Homo sapiens: one gene and its partners. The protein of the gene in region 2 interacts with the protein of the main gene of each other region in a pairwise test. Each region holds a gene or a part of one and is shown on either strand. Other genes may lie near its edges.

Region 1 (4,539 bases), about 15 Mb from region 2:
AAAATTAGCCAGGCGTGGTGGCGCGTGCCTCTAGTCCCAGCTACTCGGGAGAGGCTGAGGCAGGAGAATCGCTTGAACCCAGGAGGCGGAGGTTCCAGTGAGCCAAGATCGCGTCACTGTACTCCAGCCTGGCGACAGAACAAGACTCCGTCCCCCTCCAAAAAAAAGGTGGCTGCTACGATGTTTCTAAAAGTAATCCCCACAAGTGGGCTCACACTTTCTAAAATCACGTGAGGAACTGAGCAGGGAGATAAGAACAGTCAACAGCTAATAAACACTAGTCAGAGAAAGAAAAGCATTACAGACAAATACAGAAGTGGTTTAAAAACTAAAAGGAAAAAGTTCACCCAAAAAGTCACCTGAGAACTACACAGGCAGCCCATCAATACACACCTCCAAAAATGTTAGCTTCTTCTAGTAGGCAAACCCCAAAATATATTGGTAATCACAGTCATGATGAGCCACAGGCATTGAAGTGAGCATGCTGAGCATGTTGTTTCCTGCAGGTATGCTGGGTTACAACAGAAGCTAAGAGTCATTAGTGTTTCTAGAAAATCTAATTGTAGGGGTATTGATGGAATAAATTTAATTTCAAATCCATTTTTTCTTCAGCCTACCAAATTTTGGGGAGATGCTAACTGCCCTTCTAATTCATAATATTTTGTGTTCAGTAAGCTGTGAATAGTTGGTTTCTCTTTTTCTTGTATATTTATTCTTAATTCCCCAACTGGTAGTTGGTCACACTGAGGACTTCTTGAAGGATATATGGTCATTAGAAAATATTATTTCAAGAGAATGGGGAAGAAGTGGGAAAGATAATTATTATGTATTGAGCACTTCCTTAGCTAGGCATTATACCCACTAATCCTTATAAGAACACTGCAGGGCTCTACTGCATGGTAGATCTTTTCTATCCCATCTTGCATAAGGCAAAACCATTTCTAGCGGATTACATACGTTGCCCAGTAAGTGGGAGAACTGACAGTCAAACTCAAGGCATGTCTGCCTTTTAAATATTTCCTGTTACACTACGTGGCAGCCTTTTTAAGTAAAAGAAGCAGATCTAAGTAGCTTACTGCTGCCAGTAACCTTGCCATTAGCGTTAACATAAATGATGAAAGTTTCTAATAAATAAAATGGATTTAGTGCTTTGCTTTTAAGTTTTTCCCTTGAAGTCTTATGATTTAACAAGGAAATCATTTTCCTTTGCCTGCATTTTATGATTAACTCAAAATTAACCACATTTCCCCTCGACTAACAAATTGATGTATCTACATGCTGACTTTAACAAACAGTCATGCAGGAATATGTTTTCATTTTTAGCGATCATGTTTCTTTTCTGTTGAATTATAATGAAGTGCCCATTAAAAATTTTGTGTCTTTAATTTCAGAAATTAAATTTGTGTTTTAATTGAACAGGTAACACAAGAAATTTCAGATAGCACAAGAATTTTCAGGCTGCTTGGATCTGACAGGTATGAAAACGGACTGTATTAAATACACAGTACTAAACGTGTTTTATAGATCCAGCATGAAACAGATTTCTTTTTCAAGAGAATTGAAATGTCTGCAATATGTTCAACATTGAATTTTTCACACTATAAGAATTCACAGGTCAGAAAGTTAGCCTTTGAAAATGTACCTGATCTTCCAAGTAACAGGAATGTATGGATCTGTCAGTACTAGTTTCCATTAAACATACTGACATCTGATTTGCAGCAGAAGAAAGAGGAAATACCATATGTTAATGAACAGAACTTTGTGTTGTTAATGCCGATAGGATTTTGGAGACCTGTTCTGATTGACTGTAAGACATTGGTCAGGGTGGTGGGAGAGATTATAAAGTTATAGGAAATAGACACAAACCTTCTTGGAAGGCCAGAAGGTTTGCATAGCTTCAGTAAAAGATTTGGCTGAAGGCAGCTGAATTCTCTTAAAAGCTTAGGGCATAGATACATAGGAATGTAGAGGAGTTTATCTAAATAGCTTGTTTACTCATGTTGTCCTAAAACCAACCTTTGATCATGCGGGCAGGACTGCTCTTTCCTGGGGAGGGCAACCTGATAAATTACCCACAAGTAGGTTGACTCAAAGCCTTTGTCATTAAATCTGTGCTGAATAAATGCCTGCAGGGACAGCTAGTCAGGGCACACGGCCACTACAACTCTTTCTGTGAGCGCCCTGGCCCCCTAGCCAGTCTTTCACTGAATACCAGTGTCTGGGTACGTTATTCATCCATTGTGCAGCGTGGGTCTCTGGGTCAGACCCTGGCAATTTAGCTTCTGGTTCTTGAACTGCAAATCGTTTTTAGAACTTGTAATAAGAATTAAGTTCCCCCAAATAATTTCTAATATAGGTTTCTCCCCACTTCTGACTCTTAGAAGAACACTGGCCTAGAGGTGGGAGGTAGTGGACAGCAAAATTACTTCCCAGAGCTAGAACTGGCCCTGTAATCACAGTGATAGCAAATGATTTCTGCCCACGATCAAATGAGCAGCATTTATAGAGGCACATATTGGAGAAGCAATGGAAAATTTGGGAGCTAACATTAATTTTCAGGAATAACTTTGTTTTGTTATATGTTTTTTATTACTTTCAGGGTCGTGGTTTTGGAAAGTAGGCCAACTGATAACCCCACAGCAAATAGCAATTTGTACATCCTGGCGGGTCATGAAAACAGTTACTGAGAATTGTTGTGCTTTGACAGTTAACTCTAGAAAGAAAGAACACTACCACTGCAACATTAATGGATGCTTGAAGCTGTACAAAAGCTGCAGTAACCTGTCTTCAGTTACTTTGTAATTTATTGTGGCATGAGATAAGATGGGGAAAATTTTGTTTTAAGTGGTATGGATATATTTAGCATATTGAACCACACAAGTGCTTAATTCATTGTTATGTAATCTTTGTACATATAGGCAGTATTTTTTCTGTGAAACTTCATATTGCTGAAGACATACACTAAGAATTTATGTAGATAATGTACTTTTATGAGATGTACAAGTAAGTGTCTTATCTGTACAGATGTAAATGTTGATGAAAATGCAATTGGGGTTAATATTTTAAGAATTCTTTAGTATATTCTTGGGTGTGGCTATATTACAAAATGGGATGCTGGCAATGAAACAATACATTTAACACTATTGTATTTTTATTATATGTAATTTAGTAATATGAATATAAATCTTGTAACTTTTAAAATTGTAATGGAGGCTGTAATCATTTTATAATCTTTTTAATTTTAATGCAAGTACACTGGTGTTTATATTTGCACAAAGTATTGATATGTGATGTATTAAGTCACAAAAGTAAGCTGTGACATTGTCTATAAGCATTTGGCTCCACAAATGTATTTGGATTGTTTTCTATGTGAAGCAAACCAATTATAATTAACCACATGTTGTAGTAACTGGTCTTTTTATATTTAAGCAGAATCCTGTAAGATTGCTTGTCTTTGCTTAAAAACAATACCTTTGAACATTTTTGAATCACAGAATAGCGGTACCATGATAGAATACTGCAATTGTGGTCAGAATTACAGTATGCACAAAGAATTAATTAGCATTATTAAAGAGTCCTCACTAAACATTTCATATGATCACACTGAAGAACTGTAACATTCCATAGAGTGAAGTGGTTCAAATTTCTCTTGGAATTTTTACTTTTGTTGGCCTTATTTTATGATCCTTTTCATATTTCTTTTGACTTAGAGTATTAATACATGGCCAAAATAATTTAGTTACTACCTCATACAAACAATATAATGGTTACTACACATCACAGGAACTTAGTTTTGGTTTAAGTCATTTTTGATTGCTTTTTTCCAATGGAATATGTATATACCAGGTTTTAGCAAAATGCACACTTTTGGCTCTTTTTGGTATATGTTCTTTATATTTTAATGTGAGTATATACACTAAGAACAAACTAAATTGTGATTTATGATCTTCATTTATTTTAATGATAATGGTTTTAAAATATGTTCCTGATTGTACATATTGTAAAATAAACATGTTTTTTAACATGCTGTTGTATAGTAGCTTGTCATCTGGTTTAATCTGTATATAGTAACACTAAAATATATTAAGAGGGGAAAGCTTTATTTGTTTTGTAGTTAAATTCTTAAGTATTGAATTTTGGTCCCTCAAATCATGATTTTTATTTGATATGGGGTTTCAGTTTCATGAAGCATTAATATTTCCACACAGGAGAAAAGGGCATCTTTTGCAGAAACTTCGACTTCCTGATAAGAAAAGTCAAACATTCATAGTTTTCTGGTTAGAGGCAGGGGTCCACAAACTACAGTCCTCAGACCAATCCAGCCTACTGCCTGTTCTTGTAAATAAAGTTTTAATGGAGCACAACACCACGTATTCACTCACATGCTGTCTATGCTGCTTTGGTGCTACAATATTTGAGTTGAGTGGCTTCTGAAACACTATATGGTCTGAAAAGCCTAAAATTCTTACTTTGCTGACCCTTTACAGAAAAAATGTGCTAGTGCCTGGGTTAGAGAAAGTAAGGAAGCATTGGGAAATG
Region 2 (5,538 bases):
AACATAGTAGAAATTGGGTGAAAGGTATATAGGAGCCATGTACTATCTTTGTGAATTTTCTGTAAATCTAAAATTATTCCAAATTAAAAGCTTATTTAAAAACTGTCTGGGCGTGGTGGCTTACGCCTGTAATCCCAGCACTTTGGGAGGCCGAGGTGGGTGGATCATGAGGTCAGGAGATCAAGACCATCCTGGCCAACATGGTGAAACCCTGTCTCTACTAATAATACAAAAATTAGCCGGGTGTGTGGTGGCGCATGCCTGTAGTCCCAGCTACTTGGGAGGCTGAGGCAGGAGAATTGCTTGAACCCAGGAGGCGGAGGCTGCAGTGAGCCGAGATCACTCTGCTGCTCTCCAGCCTGGTGACAGAGCAAGACTTTGTCTCAAAATAAATAAATAAATAAATAATAAAATAATAAAAACTACTAGATGGCTCTCTATAACTTCCAGGGTATGGGGTCAGGCTCTTGAGGATGGTATTTAAGACCTTTTTACAGTTAATTCCACCCTACCTGTTTATTATTACTAACTCTAGTTATTAGTCTGCTCAGTGCACTTAACAGCACCTTGCACATGCCTTGACTTCTCATGCTGTGCCCTTATGGTGTGAAATGTTCTTATCCCTCCTCTTCACGTGGCAAAATTCAAACCAAGCTTCAAGGCTCTGCCTCAGTGTTACCTTTCCTGTTATCTCATCCTTGGTGCTTCTAACTCAGAATTGGCACAGCTGTTTTGGTATCTGTATTAGTCTGTTTTCACACTGCTATAAAGAACTAGCTGAGACTGAGTAATTTATGAAAAAAAGGGTTTAATTGACTCACAGTTCCACATGGCTGGAGAGGCCTCAGGAAACTTAAGGTGTAAGGCGAAGGGGATGCAAAGCACATCTTAACGTGGCAGCAGGAGAGAGAGAAGCAGCAAGGGGGGAAGTGCCACACTTTAAAACCATCAGCTATTGTGAGGAACTCACTCATTATCACAAAAACAACAAGGGAGAAATCAACTCCCATGATCCAGTCATCTCCCACCAGGCCCCTCCTCTGACACGTGGGGATTACAGTTCGAAATGAGGTTCTGGTGGGGACACAGGGCTAAACTATGGCAGTATATAGTTCTGCTTAGGATTTTTCACAGGTGAATACTGTAAGTACTGTTGTTTTCTAGAGCATGAATTCCTTGAGGGTGGGAATATTTTCTTCATCTTTTTATTGCCAGTATTTAGCTTGATGCCCATTTCCAGTGAGTGTGATATAGCACTTGTTCAATAGACGTTAATTGAGCCAATGAGTGAAAAGCCTTAGGGCTGTGCTATGTATGGTTATGATAGAGCTCTACTCTTTGTGTCACTCAAATATTAAATACTGTCATACAATGAACACTTGTGATTTCTATTTACATTTTAGAATTGTATTTTAAGCATTCTCATGTATACACTATAGTTTCTTCCACTTATGTTTCAGGAGGGCCAAACATGTGGGCTATTACCTCTGAAGAACGTACTAAGCATGACAGGCAGTTTGATAACCTCAAACCTTCAGGAGGTTACATAACAGGTTTGTATTTATAATTAGTTTTATTAGTGAATTATGGTCCTTATGTGATATCTAAGAATTAGTTTTAATTTGACTGCCATCAAATTTGTGTTAATAAACGATAAAATTCATATCAATCAGAATTCTAGAAATTAAAGAAATGCTAACTTTATTTTTCCTGGAACTGTCTTAATTTGTTGTTTTAAATTTGGGATATGGAAGATTTTTCCTGAATCCTAAATGATAGTCAAGAATTTCTGTGTAATTGTCTGGTTTCACATTTTAACATTATATCTAGAAAGTTTTCAGTTTATTTCTTAGATTCATTTCATGGAAAATCTAGACTTTTTTTTTCTGGAATCTGTTTTCCTAATGCTAGCCCTCTGTCTTTGAGGCTACACCAAGCACTGATTGTTGATGCTAGCCCTTGTTTTGCAGAAAGACCACCAGAGCCAAAATGGGATTAATTTAGGTGTGCCTTTGAAATTTTTTTCTATTAATTAAACTTTTTTCTGTGCCAAAGTAGCTTAGTGCTTTACATACAATAATAGTAACTATGAGAACAATGATATTTATTGAATTTTTACTATATACCAGATGCTATGCTAAGTGCATTATTTTATTTAACCTTTACAACAACCCTGTAAAGTAGGCACTGTTGTTGTCTATATTTACAAATAGTGAAACTGAGACTAAGAGACGTTATGTAACTGCCTAAGGTTACAAAGATGGTTAGTGTTAATCTGGGCTTTGAAACCATTTGGGCTGATTTTGGAATCCATCTACTTAACCATGTTATTTGTACTGCTATGATAGTAATTACCTTACCTGGTATCAGGATTTGATTACCCTGCTTACAGGTTAATAACTTTGTCCATTACGGGTGGAAGACCCAAGATTCCTGAGTCAGAGACAAAGAACCTTATGACTAACAGCATAACTAGCAAAATGAGCATTGGCATCTATCTTTCTGTTTCCTTTAGTGTTCCCTAAGTCCCACAGAGACAATGCAGAGAGCCCAGGAGAATAGTACACATGCTATGATTGTGTTACAGGAGAGGAACACTGAATTTGGGGAACCCACCCTTTTGTAGCAAGCAGTAAAGCAAGTTTGTCCCTTGTCTCAGTGGGAAACGTTACCGGATTCGTTAAGATTGCTCATTACAAACCCAATTCTGAGAAGTGACCCAGGCAGAGAGCAATTAGGGTCTTACATTATTGGTATACAGAGCAAGACACATAGGAGTGTGAAGAAACTCATGGAGGACTCTCTCTCCTAACACCTGGTACTTTTTATATTGAAACTCTTTTAGGGAATAGTGTTTTTAAATATAAATTTTACTAAGTGGAAGTATTTTTAAGGAAGACCCCAATTGTGGAAAAACTGAGATGAATCATCTTTCATCACTGATTAATATACAATAGAAGTGCAGATGTGACTTTTGTTTTAAAATATCTGTCTTATTAAAGTTATGTAAATAATTTTTATGTGTTTCTATTTCACTTATTCTTTAATGATTGGTATTAAAATTATAATAAATCATTAACATATACCCATTATTATTCAGAAGCATTGGAATAATTTCATTTACTAATGTGCTGCTTGGGTTTTGTTTTTATTACCTCCAGGTGATCAAGCACGTAATTTTTTCCTACAATCAGGTCTGCCGGCCCCTGTTTTAGCTGAAATATGGTAAAGTGTTTTGTAGATGAACCTAATTTTCTGATAGTATTTTGTTTTTTTGTAATATAGTGTTAACATAAAATTGTTTTTAGTTGCATTCTATTGGTTATTAAGAATATTTCTGCCAGCACTTTGGGAGTCTGAGGTAGGAGGATTGCTTGAGGCCAGGCTGGGCAACATAGTGAGAACCCTGTCTCTACAGAAAATTAAAAAAAAAATTAGCTGGGTGTGGTGGCCACACCTCTAGTCCCAGCTACTCAGGGAGGCCAAGATGGAAGGATTGCTTGAGCCCAGGAATTCAGTGCTGCAGTGAACTATGATTGTGTCACTGCACCCTAGCCTGGATGACAGAATGAGACTCTCTTTAGAAAAAAAAAAAAAAAAAAGGTATTTCTTCAGTTTTTTGGAAAATAAATTTTATTGAGCAAATTATTGAAAATAATTCAGGTTTAGTTCTCTAGGACAAATTTCTAATTTCATTAGAATTTTCTAAGGAAAGATATATACATTATCATTGAGAAAAATTTCCTTATAATTTGGCAGAATCTCAAAATCCTCTTTCTGTTATTTTGTAGTTTCATTTATTTCATAATCTATAAACCCCAAATTAGTCCTCGCTTCCCCTGCTCCTTCTTTAAAGAAACTATTCTCTATAATATCTGTTTTTTTAAAAACGTTTACAATAAGTAACAACCCCTGTCCCATCTTTCCACTTGGAATATTCTCATGCCTGGTAGAGTACGAGGCACATAGCAAGTATTCAGTAAATATTTGGACAGATGAATAAATTAAATTTAGAAGTATTATAATCTTGAATTTTTTTCTACCTAAACTGGTGGAATTCAGCCCAAAGGTCTCTAGATTCTGTTTTGACAGGCAGTGTTTTATTAGTTATTATCTCTGGTCAGTATTTCTTAAAGTGTAGGTTTTATCTTTTTGTTATTATATATTTTACATGTTAGATATTTTAAATTTAGTGATGATGTACACGTGAATGCCATATCATCATTTTTACTTTGTCAATCCCCAAAATAACGTTAGTTTTCCCACCACCACACCACATAGCAATCTACCTACCTCATGCTCCTTTTAGGGCTTTATCAGACCTAAACAAGGATGGGAAGATGGATCAGCAAGAGTTCTCCATAGCTATGAAACTCATCAAACTGAAGCTTCAAGGCCAACAGTTGCCTGTGGTTCTCCCTCCTATTATGAAGCAACCCCCTATGTTTTCTCCATTAATTTCTGCTCGTTTTGGTAAGTATGTATTAATTTAAATACCTGTATTTGCTACTTAAACTTTATCCCTAGGCATATTTGAGTATTAGAAAAGGATTTGTTAGCACAAAATGACAGTCCCCAGATTCCAAGTTAATTTTCATGTTAGAGATAATAAATATTAAATTCACTGTCACAGGTAGGGGATCCATGTGTTCTGGTTTTCTAGGGACAGTTCTGATTTATGCCTTTTGTCCTGGCATCTGGTCCAGTTAGTGTCTCCTTTTACAACTCCTAGTTGCGTGATGAATTATATGGTCTCCCTAGGTATAGCCAATCCCAAATACTATTCTTAGTTTCCTCTCTCTCTATATATATGTGAGTAATACAGAAAAAATTTTGAGCAGTTTTAAACTCACTTGAAATGGTTCGATTTGGGAGATAATTTAAAATTTTATGTAAGTTGAATTTTTTTAAAGGTTAATTAGCCAGCTAAATTTAGGGCCAAAAGTTGCAGACTTTGGGCTAATAAGTTCACGTATTCATCAGCGATAACCGGTTGGTATGTTTTCTGTTAATTTTGATCAGGCAATTTCTTATAATTATATGTGAGAAGCACTCATTTTGAATGGAACATTCAATTAGGTATGTCTATGTATCTGAAACATGTTCCTTCACTACAGATCTTAGAATATAGAATTCTAGAGCTGGTTATAGGGGTGTGTGCCTGTAGTTCTGGCTGCTTGGGAGGCTATGGGTAGGATTGCTTGAGTCCAGGAGTTTGAGGTTGTACTGTGCTATGATCGCACCTGTGAATAGCCACTTCATTCTAGTCGGGGCAACATAGTGAGACCCCCATCTCAAACAAACAACAGACTCCACAAAATTATTTCACTATTTTAGTGAATTCTAAAGATAAATACTAAATCATTGTGTGACCATATTTATAAGTATTCTGCAGTTAATAAATGAATAAAAGTCATCACTTTGTTCCTTTTAAGAACTCGTCCTTGAATTCATAGGAATGTTACTTACAAGAAAAGTAAAATATGTGACACACTTTCTTGCAAATAATGCATATGCATAAATGGATCTCATAAAGTA
Region 3 (4,519 bases), on a different chromosome or scaffold from region 2:
CATGCAACCTAGATCCCTCACATGCACGGTTCACAATGGGGTTCGCCCTCCTATGAGAATCTAATGCTGCTGCTGGTCTGACAGTAGGCGTTGCTCAGGCAGTAATGCTTGCTCGCTCACCTTCTGTGTGCCCTGTTCCTAACAGGCCACTGACCTGTACAGGTGCATGGCCCCAGGGGTTGGCGACCCCTTATTATACTTAATGTATATTTCAAAATTGCTAAAAGAGTATATTTTATTTTATTTTATTTTATTTATTCGTCCCCCCCCCCCCCGCAAATGGAGTCTTGCTCTGTCGCCCAGGCTGGAGTGCAGTGGTGCCATCTTGGCTCACTGCAACTTCCGCCTCCTGGGTTCAAGCCATTCTCCTGCCTCAGCCTCCCAAGTAGCTGGGATTACAGGCACAGGCCACCACACCTGGCTAATTTTTGTAGTTTTAGTAGAGACGGGGTTTCACCATGTTGGCCAGGCTGGTCTCAAACTTCTGACCTCAAGTGATCTGTCCACCTTGGCCTCCCAAAGTGCTGGGATTACAGGCATGAGCCACTGCGCCTGTTGTAGAGTAGATTTTAAGTGTTTTCACCATTAAAAAAAATATGTGAGGTGATGGATATGTTAGTTTGATTTAATCATTCCACAACGTATACATATAACGAGACATTGTACCCCATAAATACATAAAATTATTACTTGTCAAAAATAAAGTAACATTTAAAATAAATAACAGTGTATCCTGAGCCTGAAACCGTATTAAAACCCAGAACTAGGCCGGACGTGGTGGCTCACGCCTGTAATCCCATCACTTTGGGAAGCCGAGGTGGGCAGATCACCTGAGGTTGGGATTTCGAGACCAGCCTGTCCAACGTGGTGAAACCCCATCTCTACTAAAAATACAAAAATCAGCCAGGTGTGGTGGCGCACACCTGTAATCCCAGCTACTCGGGAGGCTGAGGCAGGAGAATCACTTGAACCCAGAGGTTGCAGTGAGCTGAGATTGCACCATTGCACTCCAGCCTAGGCAACAACAGCGAAACTTCGTCTCAAAAAAAAAAAAAAAAAAAAAAAAAAAGAAAAACAAAAAACCCAGAATTATTCAATTCCTTTCCCTGCTGCCATGCAGGTTGCACTAAGGAGCCGAGTGAAGTAGGGATACTGACCAATATCTGTCCAGCTCTGTTGACCCTGTGTTGTCTATGTATTTGTAGAGAACCTAGCTGGTAAGCCAGCCCTGCAAATCCCCAGTTCTCGAGCTGCTGCCCCAAGGCCTCCAGTATCTGCCGCCAGCGGGCGTCCTCAGGATGATACAGACAGCAGCCGGGCCTCACTCCCAGAACTGCCCCGGATGCAGAGACCCTCTTTACCGGACCTCTCTCGGCCTAATACCACCAGCAGTACGGGCATGAAGCACAGCTCCTCTGCCCCTCCCCCACCACCCCCAGGGCGGCGTGCCAACGCACCCCCCACACCTCTGCCTATGCACAGCAGCAAAGCCCCCGCCTACAACAGAGAGAAACCCTTGCCACCGACGCCTGGACAAAGGCTTCACCCTGGTCGAGAGGGACCTCCTGCTCCACCCCCAGTCAAACCACCTCCTTCCCCTGTGAATATCAGAACAGGACCAAGTGGCCAGTCTCTGGCTCCTCCTCCTCCGCCTTACCGCCAGCCTCCTGGGGTCCCCAATGGACCCTCTAGCCCCACTAATGAGTCAGCCCCTGAGCTGCCACAGAGACACAATTCTTTGCATAGGAAGACACCAGGGCCTGTCAGAGGCCTAGCACCTCCTCCACCCACCTCGGCCTCCCCATCTTTACTGAGTAATAGGCCACCTCCCCCAGCCCGAGACCCTCCCAGTCGGGGAGCAGGTAAGTGCTTGGAAGCACCTTTTTCCCTATCATGCTGTGAGTTGATTTTATCTTTCCCCAGAGCACTCCTTGAAGACAGTAATTCGTTTATTCACTCAGTGGGTTTATTGAGTACCTTTTTATGTGTCAGGTCTGTTGGTAGGGAAATAGCAATAAATAGAAAAGACAAAAAAATTTGACAGTCAAACTAGTAAAATATATAAATACATAGTATGCAGTATGCTTTAGAGAATTACAAAGCAGAGGAGAGGAATAAGATATACTGGGGCGGAGGTCGGGATGATGATATCTTTAATTGGAGGAGTGGGGAGAGAGTCAGGACAGTCCTTACTGATACGGTGAAAATTTGACAAAGACCTTAAGAAAGTGACGAGTAAGCTTAGTAGTTATCTAGGAGAACAGCTGTTGCAGGCAGTGGGAACAACAAATGCAGAGGCCATAAGGCAGAAGTATTCTTGAAACATTTTGGGGACAGCAAGGGGGCCATTGTGGCAAGACTACAAAGAGTGAGGGGAGGGAAGAGTGGTAGGACTTGGAGGTTGGAAAGCTGGAGCTGCAGGGGAGAGCGCACTGCAGGATTTTGCAAAGACCTTGGATTTAACTGTGTGAGATGGGAAGCCACTGGAGGGTTTTAAACAGAGAAGTAGTATGATTTGATTCACCTTTTAAAAAGATCATTAACTCCTATGTTGAGAACAGACCGCAGGAGGACAAAGGTGACAAAAGGAGACCAGTTACTGGGCTGTTGCAGTAAACGGCCAGATGGTTAGGACTACTGTGAATTTGTGGGAAGATAGGTGTTCAGTTTGAGACAAGTTTGAGATGCCTGTTAGGTAATCAAGAAGAGACAATGAATTGGTAATTGGCTATCAGACTCCAAAGTTGAGGGGAGAGGTTTCGGCTAGAGAGATACATTTGAATGGTGTTGAAAACCACATGCTGGATGAAGTCACCTAAGGAGTGAATATAGATAAGAAGAGGCCTAGGAGGCTGAGGCAGGAGAATCGCTTGAACTCAGGAGGCAGAGGTTGCAGTGAGCCGAGATCACGCCACTGCACTCCAGCCTGGGCGACAGAGTGACAGTCCATCTCAAAAAAAAAAAAAAAAAAAATGAGGGCTGAGCCCTCGCCCTCCTACATTAGAGGCAAAAGAGATGAAGAATACCCAGCAGAGGAAACAGAAAAGCTTCTAGTGAGGATGGAAGGAGAAAAACCAAGAATGTGATGGAAAAACTCCAAGGTAGAGTAAGTGGTCAGCTGTGCCCAGTGCTGCAGATGGGTCAGGTAAGTTAAAGACCAAGAACTGGCATTGGTCTTAGTATCATGGGACCCTTTTGAGTAGTTTCAGTGGAGTGGTGGAGGGTGAAAGTGAAAGCTTAATTGGAGTGGGTTCAAGAATGCAGGAATAGGAGGAGAGAAATTGGAGATAGCAATATAGAAATCTCTTAAAGAGTTCGCTGTAAAGTCCAGGAGAGAGGGGTGAAGATAAGTGAAGTGATTGTTGGACGAAGATGTGGGGTTGAGAGTTGTTTTTTTCCCATCCCAAGATGGGAGACCTATTTGTATGCTGATGGAATGAGTAGCATGAAACTTAGGAGAGAGGGAAAAAATTGAATCAGAAGAGAGGGAACAGATTGCCTGAATAATGACCTGGAGGAGGCCAGAGAAAAGAGAATGTGATCGATAGATAAAAAGGGTTGGCCTTAGATAGGAACATAGTTCTTCCATAGTAACAAGAGGGGAGGCAGAGCATATAGGCTTAGAAGCAAGTGGGTAGGTGGGTGTAGTGGTAGAAGCATGTGGAAAGTTTATTCTAATTTGCTTCTGTTTTCTCAGTGAAATGGAAAGCAAGAGCATCAGCTGTGATTGAGGCGAGGGAAGGAGAAGGAGAGTTGAGGAGAGAGAAGAGGCATGAAATGGTCATCTGGAGCGTGGGAGTGTGGGTGGACTAGGGAAGTGTGCTCAGATAGGCAACCACGCGAAGGGCCCACTTGAGATTATGGGCCATACATTTCATGTGAGATTAATTAGTCTCATGTGTTCAGTTGTGATTTGCAGGTACAGAAAAAGAGTAGAGCTGTGTTTAACCAGCGTTAGCATGTTTTAGGCATGTGCGACTCTAAGGGAGAGTGGGGCAGGAAGGGAAGGGTGTATGTGAGGGAGTGATTGCAATAATGGAGCCTAAGCTGGGTGAGGAGGGAATTTAGGAACCCTGGAAAAAGAAGAGGTTGTGTAATCTCGTTATAATTAGCATAACTGAAATTTTAGAGTGAGGGAGACCGTGACAGCTCTCTGGGGCCTTATTGGACATGGGAATTTTGGCTCCCATATCGTTGTATCATTAGACTTTGAGACATACCCTCCACAAACAGCTTCTTGGCCTTTATTTATTTATTTGTTTGTTTGTGTTTTGAGACAGAGCCTTGCTCTTTCGCCCAGGCTGGAGTGCAGTGGTGCAATCTCTGCTCATTGCAACCTCTTCCTCCCAGGTTCAAGTGATTGTTGTGTCTCAGCCTCCTGACTAGCTGGAATTACAGGCATGTGCCACCATATCTGGCTAATTTTTGTATTTTTAGTAGAAACGGGTTTTCGCCGTGTTGGCCAGGCTGGTCTCAAACTCCTGACCTCAAGTGAGCCACTGCGCCCAGCCCTTAGCTT
Region 4 (4,519 bases), on a different chromosome or scaffold from region 2:
AGAGGAAACACGTGAATGATTTTCTGCCTTTGAGAAGACATTTAAAGCAAAAATTGACAGAACCATTTTTGTTCGAACCTGGTAATGGAAGACAAGCTATGATAACTGAGTAACTGTGTGAACTTTCTTAATTAACATAGGATGAGTCTCATGATCACTCATTTGGACCAATGCCTATATCAGCAAATGGAAGCAATCTTTATGATGCTGTAAGGATGGGAGCAGGATCAAGCATAATTGAAAACCTACAGTCTCAGCTAAAGCTAAGGGAAGGGGAAATCACTCATTTACAGGTATTGGAAAAATTAAATTTGCTATAGAAGTAAATGAAGTTTTGAGGCCTAATAAATAGCACCCTTCATTTCCATCTGAATTCTGAGCAAATTGAGAAACAAGATGACATAGTGGCATGTGAAGCCCAAAATGTATCACATATATCAATGATAAAGGCTAAAAAGAGAAATTAGCTAAGGATAACAGCCAACTGAACCTGCTAATTGCCAGAATTAGGCATATTCGGCTGATCTGTCACAGGAAATGCTGGGCTGGAGCAGGCCTCCCATGTTTTACAACCTGCCTACATAAGACATAAGCATCTAGGAGCAGAGAATCCCTCCTCCTTTCAAGCAGCTCTTTCCCAACAGAATAAAGGGAAGTCACTGAGCTGTGAATGCCTGTTCTATTCAGATTTACCTCTTAGATAAGTTGTTCCAGCTACCCCGGGAAGGAGGGGTAAAGGGGATGAGATGTTTGAACTGTAACACCCTGTACATGGGAGGAAACAACATGAGTTGTTGATGGAGCATCCTTCCATCTTACCTTTTTGGCTTTTAAAAAACTTTATGCAGTCAGAAATATTGAAATGTTTTACAGGTTTGAGCATCCCAGCTCTGAAATCTGAAATGCCCCCAAATCCAAAACTTTGAGTGCTGACATGCTGCTCAAAGGAAAAGCTCAATTGAGCATTTTGGATTTCCAGATTTGGGATGCTCAACCAGTAAGTACATAATGCAATTATTCCATAATCTGAAAAAAAAAAAAAAAAAAAAAGAAATTTGAAACATTCCTGGTCTCAAGCATTTTGAATCAGGATACCTCTTTTCAGTGTTAAACACAATACACTCAGAAGTAGGTAAAAATTCAACTCCCATTATATACTTTTAGTTATATGAAAATATTAAAGAACTTGAATTGGCAAAAAGTAGATCAGACTAATCTGAATCCCAGATGTTTGTATAGCTGGTATGCTATACAGGGACCTAATTAATTTCTTTGGTAGTGATGAAAGCCTCTGTCGATACAACCTACACAGGTGGGGCTACGTTAAAGTATATTTTTATTTCTCTGGGTTCTTGTAGTAATTTAGAATAACTGAAATATATGTCATTTCCTTAGATTAGAAAAATATATGGTTGAATGTTTTCAAACAAATAATTGGATTTATCTCTGTTGCACAGTAAACCTTATAAACGGTATACCTCTCAGGAAAGTTGGGACCGTTTTTCTGCCACTGTTTCCTTTACTTAAGAAAGAGCTAGCTCAAGGTTATATGTTGACATGTCTATTTCAAAAAAAAAAAAAAAACCACACACACATTAAATATTTTTATATTACTGGGAGTATTAAAAAAGATATGTTTTGATTTAAACTATTTTGTGGTAATGCTTCTCAGCTAGAAATTGGCAATCTAGAAAAAACTCGATCAATAATGGCTGAAGAACTAGTTAAATTAACAAATCAAAATGATGAACTTGAAGAGAAGGTGAAGGAGATACCCAAACTTAGAACTCAGCTAAGAGTAAGTATTCTTCACCTAAGGATGAGTCTAAGATATTTTAGTTCATTTACTTTAAATCTCATGTTTTTAATTTATAGTATGTGTTAGTGATTTATTTGAAAATTAAAGAGTACTAATATTTGAGCAAAGAAGTTTAAAAATGAATCTTTTATCTTGCTTGTATCTTTACATATTCAAAGTAATTTTCACAATCATGTTTAGTCCCAGTATAGGAAAAGAACTAGATTTCATTTGGCTACACTTCATTTATAACATTGAACTTTGTATGATCTTAGTAATATTTTGTTGATTGTTGTTATATGTATCATCACAATTGTCTCATCTGGATGTTAGAAGACACTGTTAAGCCATAAGTGAGAATATGTTTTCTTTTGATCTTTCCTGTGGTGTGGGCTAAATGCCGGGTAATACTTATACCACCATGGAACAAAGAGACTAAATTTTATATCAAGTGTGCTTACATTAATGGGAGAGAAGTCATATATGGGGAGAATTGTAGATTTAGTGGAGAGATAGGGTAAAATTGATAGCCATCTAGCTTGGTTTTTTTCTTTAATTCCTTTTTTTGCTATTTAGTTCAACATAGACTGAAGTGTGAGTTTAATTTTTAAAAGAGATGAGTATATACTTTTATTTAAATTGTAGTGTTTTCATTGTTGACTCCTATGGCAATATAAATATTAAAGATGTTCTGTGTAGTTATTTTAAAAATTGTAAACAAATACATTTTTCAGGATTTGGATCAAAGGTACAACACTATTCTGCAGATGTATGGAGAAAAAGCAGAAGAGGCAGAAGAACTTCGATTAGATCTCGAAGATGTAAAAAATATGTACAAAACTCAAATAGATGAACTTTTAAGACAAAGTCTCAGTTAACTTGTGAAAATTGAATTCCCATCAAACTGAATGTAAGCATTTAATATCTAAACATTTAATGTGGACTTCCAATAAATTCTTTTATAGAATTAGAAAGTGGGATTTACTGTAGAGTGTAAAAATTTTTTTAAAATTGTTTTACACTATGTAGTAATATTTACAGTTAAATTATTTTGTGCAATATTTGAACTTTATTTTTGAAACTATTCTTTAAAGATTTATTTTTTAAAGCATTCATTTTTTTTCCTTGAATAGCACAGAGATTTATTACTTTATCCTCATATAAATATGGCTAGAGAAGAAGAATGGTGTTCATATATGTATTGTAGATATACAACTAGTTGTATCTATAATTTGTAAGTGTTTATATATATATTAAGAACATTTGAAGAGTAATGTTAACATACTGAAACTTTGAAATCTTTCACATTTAAAATTTCAACATATCTTAATTACTGCTCATGAAAATGTACATTAAGTGTTAAAGTAAAAAATTATTAAATCTGTGGCTATTAAATTTTAAACTAATTTTTTTCCTTTAAAAGTAAGAGTCACACTGACACTGTCTGAAATTTAAAGAGTGAATGATTTAAACTTAAAAAAAATTTTGATCTGAAAATTTATTTCACCCAGCTTTCACAATTAAGTCTGTATAAAATGTGGTACCTTTTGGTACCTATCCAGAGAAACCTGTACATATTCAATGTTATCTAGATGTGATTGGATAATGGAGAAAATTTATTTATAATGATTTTGCAATGGCATCAATAACATTTAAATGATTTTGAAGAAGTATTATTTTACTACCCTATAAAATGAATCGAAAATAATAAAGTTCTTAACATAATTTACTCTTTAAAAATTACCTGTTCATATTTTGTAAACCCATATTTTTAGCACATTAAAAATGAATGTTTGATATTACAGAATATTCATAACAAAATGGAAGAATTATAGGAATTAACTTGAATTTGGCATTTTTAATTTTGTGATTTATCATTTTATTTTTTCTTGAAATTTCAAACACAAGGAAAGCATAGAATAGCTTTTAAAAGTAGCTATGCCTTCTTCCAAATGTTATTTTATTCAAAAAGGTAACCAGGTTGTGTTTTAAACCTGTGAAATATTGTGATGCATTTTATTACTGAAAGTTATTTAACTGCCTTTACTTGCACATAAAAACTCTCATTTACGGCCAGGTGCTGTGGCTCATGCCTGTAATCCCAGCACTTTGGGAGGCCAAGGCGGGCATATCACCTGATGTCAGGAGTTCAAGACCAGCATGGCCAGCAGTTTGGTGAAACCCCATCTCTACTAAAAATACAAAAATTAGCCTGGCGTGGTGGTGTGCGCCTGTAATCCTAGCTACTCGGGAGGCTGAGGCAGGAGCATTGCTTGAACCTGGGAGGTGGAGGTTACAATGAGCCAAGATTGTGCCACTGCACTCCAGCATGGGTGACAGAGAAAGACTCCGTCTCAAAAAAAAAAAAACAAACTCTTATTTAATTTTTAGTTAAAATTAAAACACTAGTACTTCAGAATATAGATACAAGTACACCATCTTGAAGAATTTGGAGTTTTTCAGGGCAATTCAAATGACCTCATTTTTTGTTCTTTTTGTATTCCAGACAGTGTTTCTGTCATTGGATCTCTGATTGGTAGTGTTAATAAATATTCTTTCAGTGTGAGCCAGATTCATAAAATTAATTTTCTTCATTTTAGTAGTAAAAAGTAGTCTAATAGCTTTTTGTCAGCTTGATTTTTTTGTGTGTGTAATATTCAAGGGCAGAATGACAGGACAGATAAGCAATAAGAAATGTATAGAATTAGAAAATATAGTAGT

What was found. Proteins that work in one complex are often made in the same cells at the same time.
Region 1: the proteins of ITSN2 (region 2) and MAP4K3 interact in a two-hybrid assay, tested with the Homo sapiens proteins (one large-scale study listed by BioGRID and IntAct).
Region 3: the proteins of ITSN2 (region 2) and WIPF2 interact in a two-hybrid assay, tested with the Homo sapiens proteins (one large-scale study listed by BioGRID).
Region 4: the proteins of ITSN2 (region 2) and TMF1 interact in a two-hybrid assay, tested with the Homo sapiens proteins (one large-scale study listed by BioGRID).

The regions. Positions count from the first base shown.
Region 1 is NC_000002.12:39,248,766-39,253,304, reverse strand, and holds the end of MAP4K3 (mitogen-activated protein kinase kinase kinase kinase 3), read left to right. Parts: intron 1-1,419; coding exon 1,420-1,475; exon of another isoform or gene 1,476-1,480; intron 1,481-2,599; coding exon 2,600-2,687; 3' UTR 2,688-4,039; downstream 4,040-4,539. UniProt on the Homo sapiens protein: Serine/threonine kinase that plays a role in the response to environmental stress. Appears to act upstream of the JUN N-terminal pathway.
Region 2 is NC_000002.12:24,311,147-24,316,684, reverse strand, and holds part of ITSN2 (intersectin-2), read left to right. Parts: intron 1-1,460; coding exon 1,461-1,553; intron 1,554-3,161; coding exon 3,162-3,225; intron 3,226-4,309; coding exon 4,310-4,473; intron 4,474-5,538.
Region 3 is NC_000017.11:40,263,285-40,267,803, forward strand, and holds part of WIPF2 (WAS/WASL-interacting protein family member 2), read left to right. Parts: intron 1-1,205; coding exon 1,206-1,862; intron 1,863-4,519. UniProt on the Homo sapiens protein: Plays an active role in the formation of cell surface protrusions downstream of activated PDGFB receptors. Plays an important role in actin-microspike formation through cooperation with WASL.
Region 4 is NC_000003.12:69,021,334-69,025,852, reverse strand, and holds part of TMF1 (TATA element modulatory factor), read left to right. Parts: intron 1-140; coding exon 141-293; intron 294-1,672; coding exon 1,673-1,798; intron 1,799-2,532; coding exon 2,533-2,676; 3' UTR 2,677-4,519. UniProt on the Homo sapiens protein: Potential coactivator of the androgen receptor. Mediates STAT3 degradation. May play critical roles in two RAB6-dependent retrograde transport processes: one from endosomes to the Golgi and the other from the Golgi to the ER.